Homo sapiens: one gene and its partner. The protein of the gene in region 1 purifies or fractionates together with the protein of each later gene. This does not show direct contact. Each region holds a gene or a part of one and is shown in the gene's direction. Other genes may lie near its edges.

Evidence for each region.
Region 2: the proteins of CCZ1 (region 1) and MON1B purify together in Homo sapiens (affinity purification with mass spectrometry; 2 studies listed by BioGRID and IntAct, with this or other methods). This does not show direct contact.

The regions. Positions count from the first base shown.
Region 1 is NC_000007.14:5,912,169-5,915,982, forward strand, and holds part of CCZ1 (vacuolar fusion protein CCZ1 homolog), read left to right. Parts: intron 1-674; coding exon 675-786; intron 787-3,814. UniProt on the Homo sapiens protein: Acts in concert with MON1A, as a guanine exchange factor (GEF) for RAB7, promotes the exchange of GDP to GTP, converting it from an inactive GDP-bound form into an active GTP-bound form.
Region 2 is NC_000016.10:77,194,062-77,197,875, forward strand, and holds part of MON1B (vacuolar fusion protein MON1 homolog B), read left to right. Parts: intron 1-273; coding exon 274-1,093; intron 1,094-1,473; coding exon 1,474-1,621; intron 1,622-3,814.

The DNA.
Region 1 (3,814 bases):
GCTGGTCTTGAACTCCTGACTTCAAGTGATCCACCTGCCTTGGCCTCCCAAAGTGCTGGGATTACAGGTGTGATCCACCATGCGTGGCCTATTATCTTTTTGGTAAAGATAATATGGACATTGAAATATCTTTGTGCCATCTGATTGACAGTAATCAACAAAGGAAAGTTTGTTGTTTCCAATGAGTTAAAACTTACTTCAGCATACCCTTTTTTTTTTTTTTTTTTTTTTTTTTTTTTTTTGAGATGGAGTGTCTCTCTGTCGCTCAGGCTGGAGTGTGGAGTACAGTGGCACGATCTCAGCTCACTGCAGCCTCCATCTCCTAGGTTCAAGCAATTCCCCTGCCTCAGCCTCTTGAGTAGCTGGGATTGCAGGTGCCCACCACCACGACCAGCTAATTTTTGTAGTTTTAGTAGAGACGAGGTTTTGCCATGTTGGCCAGGCTGCCCTTGAACTCCTGACTTCAGGTGATCCACCCAGCTCAGCCTCCCAAAGTGCTGGGATTACAGGCATGAGCCACCACGCCCAGCCAGCATATTCTGATATGGTGTTTGCCAAATAGCACCTGGCATCAAAAGCAACTGGTGTGTATGAAGTGGGAGTGTGTTCTGTTTCTAGATTCCTGATTCTCCTTCACCTCGTTGAATCAAGTCATGTCTGTTCTTGCTTTTAAGATTTCTTACCGGACCCTTGAACCTCAATGATCCAGATGCAAAATGCAGATTCCCCAAAATTTTTGTAAATACAGATGACACTTATGAAGAGCTCCATTTAATCGTTTATAAGGTAACAACTGTTTTCCTTCCAGCGTTAATGATTGTGCTGAAGTGGATCTTTCTTGCATGTGTACACGAGTGCATGTGCAAACCTCTTAAATGTTTCTTGGAAAAGATATTGGAAGTTCTGATTATGGTAAAACTCAAAATGGGTGTTCTTCCAGCGTAATAAGTTTATTTTCAGCTCCTTTTAAACAGTTTTGTTATTAGTGAAAGAGGAACTGTTTAAGATTGTGATTTATAAACGTGTGAAGTCTCACGTGCTCTCAAACCAAAGGCTGTCAGAGGTTGGTGCTGCCTGTTCTCGAAATGGCTCTGGATGGGGGCCGTAGCCACGTGTCTGTGCATATGCTGCTTTTGCTCTGATTTTAAAGCTGTAGGCTTGCTAATTCCATAAGGATTGTATTTTGTTTCTGTCAGGACATGGTCTTGTAAGGATATGTACTCAGGTTGTGTTTCTAATTAAAGGCAGTTTTTGATTCAAGAAAGAAGACGGAGCATGTGCACGTGTTTCTCCTCTTTCCTGCCTGAGGCTGTGGAGAAGTTTTCATTTATAAAGGCTCAGAAATGATGCCGTGGGGGAACAGGAAGGAGCGGGATGTGTCAGGATGAGGGAGTCCTGTCCCTCTCTGGAAGGTAGACGGGACTTGTAAACCATGCCTGATAGAGGGCGGTGCCGGAGCAGGCCTGGAATATGAGTGGCAACCCTGTGCTAAGGCAAGGACCCACAGCCCTGTGGAAGCCCAGAGAGGCTCCTGACTTGGAGGAGGTCACCTGAGGAGTCAGAGTGGGGCCTGGGCCTGGAAAGGTGGGGAAGGGAAGTGAAGTGTGGCAGAGAGGCCAGTCAGCCTCCCCTTCCCCCATCCTTGCACAGACAGGCCCACAGCTGAGCATCCATCCCTGGGTGACAATCGAGGGTCTGTTTAAAGAAAGGAAACAGTCTGAAGAGACCCAGAGTGGCTAACGTGGATGTCTGCCCCTGAGAATGAGGCCCTGCTCATTCTGGCATTTCTTTCTCCCAGACAGAACTGAGACCTTCATCCTACACTCAGAGTGAAGCCTCCATCTCTGGTCAGCCTTCTGGTTCCCTCATTGTTAAATATGGCTGCAAAAACAAAACTAGAGGTCTCGAAAGAAACATGATTCCGAGGACAGACAAGAACTTTAAAAATTAGTATCCACTAATTAGAAGAGTTGTATCTATTAATATAAAATTGAAATGGGCCAGGTGCAGTCCCAGCACTTTGGGAGGCCAAGGTGGGAGGATCACTTGAGGCCAGGAGTTGGAGGCCAGCCTGGGCAACATAGTAAGACCCTGTGTCGACAGGAAAATGTTTAAAAATTAGCCAGGCATGGCAGTGCTCATGTGTAGTCCCAGCTACTCAGGAGGCTGAGGCAGGAGAACCGCTTGAGCCCAAGAGTTGGAGGCTGCAATGAGCTATGATCACACCACTGCATTCTAGCCTGGGTGACAGAGTGAAACCCTCTCAAAAATAATGAAACTGGTATCAACAGTTTCATATCCAGCACCAGACATTATGTGACAGTGGAAGAGAGACTTTCAAAGTTCTGAGAGAAAATGAATTTGAGCGTAGAGTTCTTTGCCATGCCAAGCTGTCAACCACAGATAAGACAAAAGAAAGACATTAGCCAGGGCATGGTGGCTCATGCCTATATCCCAACACTTTGGGAGGCCAAGGTGGGCGGATCACCTGAGGTCTGGAGTTCGAGACCAGCCTGGCCAACATGGGGAAACCCTGTCTCTACTAAAAATACAAAAAATCAGCCAGGCGAGGTGGCACACGCCTCTAATCCCAGCTACTCCGGAGGCTGAGGCAGGAGAATCACTTGTACCCGCGAGGCGGAGGTTGCAGTGAGCTGAGCTTACGCCACTGTGCTCCAGTCTGGGCAACAGAGCAAGACTCTGTCTCAGAAAGAAAAAAAAAACACGTTCAACATGAAAAGCCTCAAAAAGTTTACCGTCATGCACCTTTCCTGAGGGTGTTACACAGGGTCATCCGTCAGCAGAATAAGTGAGCACACCAAGAAGGAACACTTGGGAATCCAGAACAGTAGTTCTCATGTGTGAGACGGTACAAGGAAATCTTGGGGTGATAAGGCTCTTCAGGTCTGCTGGCGGCACCCCACCTCCAGCAGCTCCGTGACAGCAGGAGGAGGGAGGGCTCTAGGGTTCAAGCCGCCAAGATAAAAAGATGTTTCATTCATCACATGGTGTGCTTGAGAGTCACTTAAAGTTGGGCTGTGACAGACTGGCAGGGAAGGGGAGATTGCAGGAAGAGCATACAGAAAGATGTGGTCTGAAAAAGCAAACCAAAATGTTGGAGGTGTAATTCAGAGCAGGAATTGGAGTAGGAAGAATGTCCGTTTGTGTATCGAGTGAAAGTTTGAGACCCCATCTCAAGAAAAAAATCATCCTCCTTTGAATGACCCAGGTAATGGCTGAAATCTCCATAACCCTGGTGTGTAATATGCTGTCGGCTGCATTTCTATTTTTAGAGTCAATCTACAGACATATTGTGGGGTGTGATGATGGGATTGTGGCTATGTTAAAGGGTCCTTACCTTTTTCTTAATGACTTTGAGATACAATGCACGTACCATACAACTCACCCTCGTACACTTAAAATGTACAGTTCAGTGATTTCTAGTTGCAAAGTTCATGAGTCTCCAAGACCATCCTCACTTCTGACACCCACTGCGAGTTTGGGAGTCCCCGTGACCACCTTTAGGGTAAGAGTTCTCTAGAAGTACTACAGGACTCAGAAAAGGCTTTCTACAGCAGTACCCCCGAGCCAAAGGCCATGTGTTCCAAAACCCCCGGGAGGTGCCTGAAACCGGGGACAGTACCAAACCCTTCACTTGCTGTGTTTTTTCCTGTACATACATGCCTGTGATAATGTTTATAAATTCAGTACAGTAAGCGATTAATAAGGCTGGGCGCAGTGGCTCACACCTGTAATCCCAGCACTTTGGGAGGCCGAGGCAGGCAGATCACTTGAGGCCAGGAACTTGAGACCA
Region 2 (3,814 bases), on another chromosome or scaffold:
GGCTCTGTGTCAGCCCTTGTACCATCTCTACCCGCCTGCCCGTGGTCTTTGCTGTGTATCTAACCTACTTGTTCCTTTGTCCATCCCATCATGTCTCTGCAAATGTCCAGATTCCTCCAGCTTGTCCTTACCCCAGTCCAGGTGCCCACAGAGTGAGCATGTGGACTCGGGCCTGGTGTGTGTATGGTAGGAGAGGGCAGAAGAGCCCCACTGTCTCCCTCTGGTCATTCCTGATCCAGCTGTACCCCCCCTTCTTACCCCTTCCTTCCCTAGAGGACCACAAGCTGGTGTTCCTACAACAGGGCCCACTGTTGCTCGTGGCCATGTCACGGACTTCTCAGTCAGCAGCCCAGCTGCGGGGGGAGCTGCTAGCTGTGCACGCACAGATCGTGAGCACACTTACACGTGCAAGTGTCGCCCGCATCTTCGCACACAAGCAGAACTATGACCTCCGCCGCCTGCTGGCTGGTTCAGAGCGCACACTGGACCGACTTCTGGACAGTATGGAGCAGGACCCAGGAGCCCTGCTCCTGGGTGCCGTGCGCTGTGTGCCCCTTGCCCGCCCGCTGCGAGACGCACTAGGTGCGCTCCTCCGACGTTGCACAGCGCCTGGCCTGGCGCTGTCAGTGCTGGCAGTAGGCGGTCGACTTATAACAGCAGCCCAGGAGCGAAATGTGCTGGCCGAGTGCCGGCTGGACCCAGCTGACCTGCAGTTGCTGCTCGACTGGGTGGGTGCACCAGCCTTTGCGGCGGGTGAGGCTTGGGCACCTGTGTGCCTGCCCCGCTTCAACCCTGATGGTTTTTTCTACGCCTACGTGGCCCGCCTGGATGCTATGCCTGTCTGCCTGCTGCTGCTTGGCACCCAACGTGAAGCCTTCCATGCCATGGCCGCCTGCCGGCGCCTGGTTGAAGATGGGATGCATGCCCTTGGTGCCATGCGTGCCCTTGGGGAGGCTGCCAGCTTCTCTAATGCCTCATCAGCCAGTGCTCCTGCCTACAGCGTGCAGGCTGTCGGGGCGCCGGGCCTCCGGCACTTCCTGTATAAGCCGCTGGACATCCCTGACCACCACCGCCAACTGCCCCAGTTTACCAGGTAGGCCCTGACCCTAAGGCAACTGGCTGGGTGGGAAGGCCTGTCAAACCAGGAAGTTCAGCATCTCAGGGATGTGACTCAGGAGAGATAACCAGCCATGCTTAAGAAAGAGGGAAGAGAACAAGTCTCTGTCTGATGATGGAGCATCAGCCACAGACCTAAAGGAATCCCCCTCTTCTGGTGGACAGCAGGGCCCTAGTACTCAGGGAATCTCCTAGTTTGATGAGGGAAGGTCAGCCTCCAACCCCTGAGAATCCTCAAGTCTCATGGGAGAGGCTCAGCTCCCTAACTTCATTGAAATCTCTAGACTGAGGGAGGAAATGGGCCAGCCAAGAAGGCCCTGGACTAACCTTGTCCTCCACCTCCCTCCATCATGGCAGCCCTGAGCTAGAGGCCCCCTACAGCAGAGAGGAGGAGCGGCAGCGGCTGTCGGACCTGTACCACCGCCTGCATGCTCGTCTCCACAGCACCTCCCGACCCCTGCGCCTCATTTACCACGTGGCTGAGAAGGAGACACTACTGGCCTGGGTAAGTTGGGCAGGGCTCTGAGTGAATTAATTCCCCACTTCAAGCCTCCTTTCCCTATATTGTATCCCCTCCAGCCACAGTGCCTCCACCAAACACAGCAGGCCTCTGGCTGGGCTGTGCCTTGCCTGCAACACTGTCCCTGCCTTTACACACACATCTTTGAAGCCCCTGACAACTAATGACCGTGTCTCTAATCCGACATTAGCCTCACCCTCCTGTGTGCTTCTCCCAGATTAGCAACCAGGACAGTGTCTTTGACTTTCCAGAGGCCCCATTAACTACCACTGCTGTGCCTGCCGATTCCCCAGTAGCCCAATCCATGTGTTTGGAGGCACCCCATTCATCACCAGCTCATTGTGACTCCATGAGTCCCCAGCACTCCTCAGACTACAGGCGTGGTCCCTTGCTGTGCCCTCCACCTGGGGTATCCTTCCCTTTGGTCTCCTCTGGGCTCCAGCCCTCACTTCCTATGGGTTTGCTAAAGGTCAGCTACTAAGGGAGGCCAGTGAAGGAGGCCTCATCAGAAATGGCACCTGCCATGTAATGCATATTTATTAATTTATTGCGTGACTGCTGTGGATCAGGTATTGTCCTAGGCTAAGAATTTTGTTTTTAAATTTTTTTAACTTTCATTTTCAAATAACTTTAGACTTAGAAGCTGCAAAAACAATATAAAGAGTTTTTATATTTATATTTATAAAGAGTTATAAAGGGCGTGGTGAAAACCACGCCTGGTCAGATGGTGGTTTTCCTAACTCCATCATTCTTTCTACATTTATTGGCTGGGATTTTACTATAAAGAGTAACATGGGGCCGGACGTGATGGCTCACGCCTGTAATCCCAGCACTTTGGGAGGCTGAGGCAGGCTGATCACTTGAGGTCAGGAGTTCGAGACCAGCCTGGCAAACATGGCAAAACCCCGTCTCTACTAAAAATACAAAAATTAGCTGGGCGTGGTGGTGCGCACCTGTAGTCCCAGCTATTCATAAGGCTGAGGCAGGAGAATCGCTTGAACCTGGGAGGTGGAGGTTGCCGTGAGCCAAGATCGCGCCACTGCACTCCAGCCTGGGCGACAGAGTAAGACTCCATTTCAAAAACAAAAAGGAATAACTTTTCCTTCTCCTATTTATTGAATTTTTAATTTTCTATCAATATTGTCTCATGGATTTTTCTTTAATTCAGTGAGCTAAAATCCTTCTCTAGCATTTATTTTGGTGTTCAGATTGCCTCTGATTTAGCCGGTGGGTACCCTGATTTAGCCAGGCTGATCCCTGTGTCTCTGACACGTCCCCTTCACTATGTGAGCACATCTTACTTGACTTTCTCTATTCCAGTCCTCAACTCAGCCATTTTTCCATGGAGCCCTTATACCTTTTAGTAGAGATTGGAATTTTAAAACCAAGATATGGGCCAGACACGGTGCCTCACGCCTATAATCCCAGCACTTTGGGAGGCTGAGTCGGGGTGGGAGTTGGGGGGAGTGGGCGGCGAGTCACAAGGTCAGGAGTTCGAGACCAGCCTGGCCAACAGGGTGGAACCCCATCTCTACTAAAAATACAAAAAATTAGCTGGATGTGGTGGCATGCGCTTGTATCCCAGCTACTCGGGAGGCTGAGGCAGGAGAATCGCTTGAACCTGGCAGGCGGAGGTTGCAGTGAGCCGAGACCGTGCCACTGCACTCCAGCCTGGGTAACAGAGTAAGACTCTACGTCAAAAACAAAAAAACAAAAACAAACAAAATATATGTTAGGAGCAGAATTTTAAACCAAGTGATCAGGGTGGCCTCCCTGAGCAGATGGCATCTGAGTGGAGTAGGGAGGTATTGAGCTACGTGGATATTAGGAGGAAGAGTACACCTGGCAGAGGGAAAGGACTGATATGCTATGAGGTGGAACCAAGCCTGGCTATGTTTGAGGAATAGCAAGGAAAGGGTAGAGTGGCCGGAGCAGAGGGAGTGAAGGGGAGCGCTCTGGGAGGTGGCACAGGAAAGGCGCTAGTGACCTTGTGGGGTCAGGCCTCTCCATGTGGTATGAGGCATAAATTGAGTTCCTCTTTATATTATTCCCTGGCTGTAGATGATGAAAACATAGTTGTAGGAGCTTAGAGCAGGACCTTGTACACAATAGGTTACTGACAGAATATTAAACATTGTTACTGTTTTCCCCAGTTCCCAATGAGCAAACAGGTCTAGA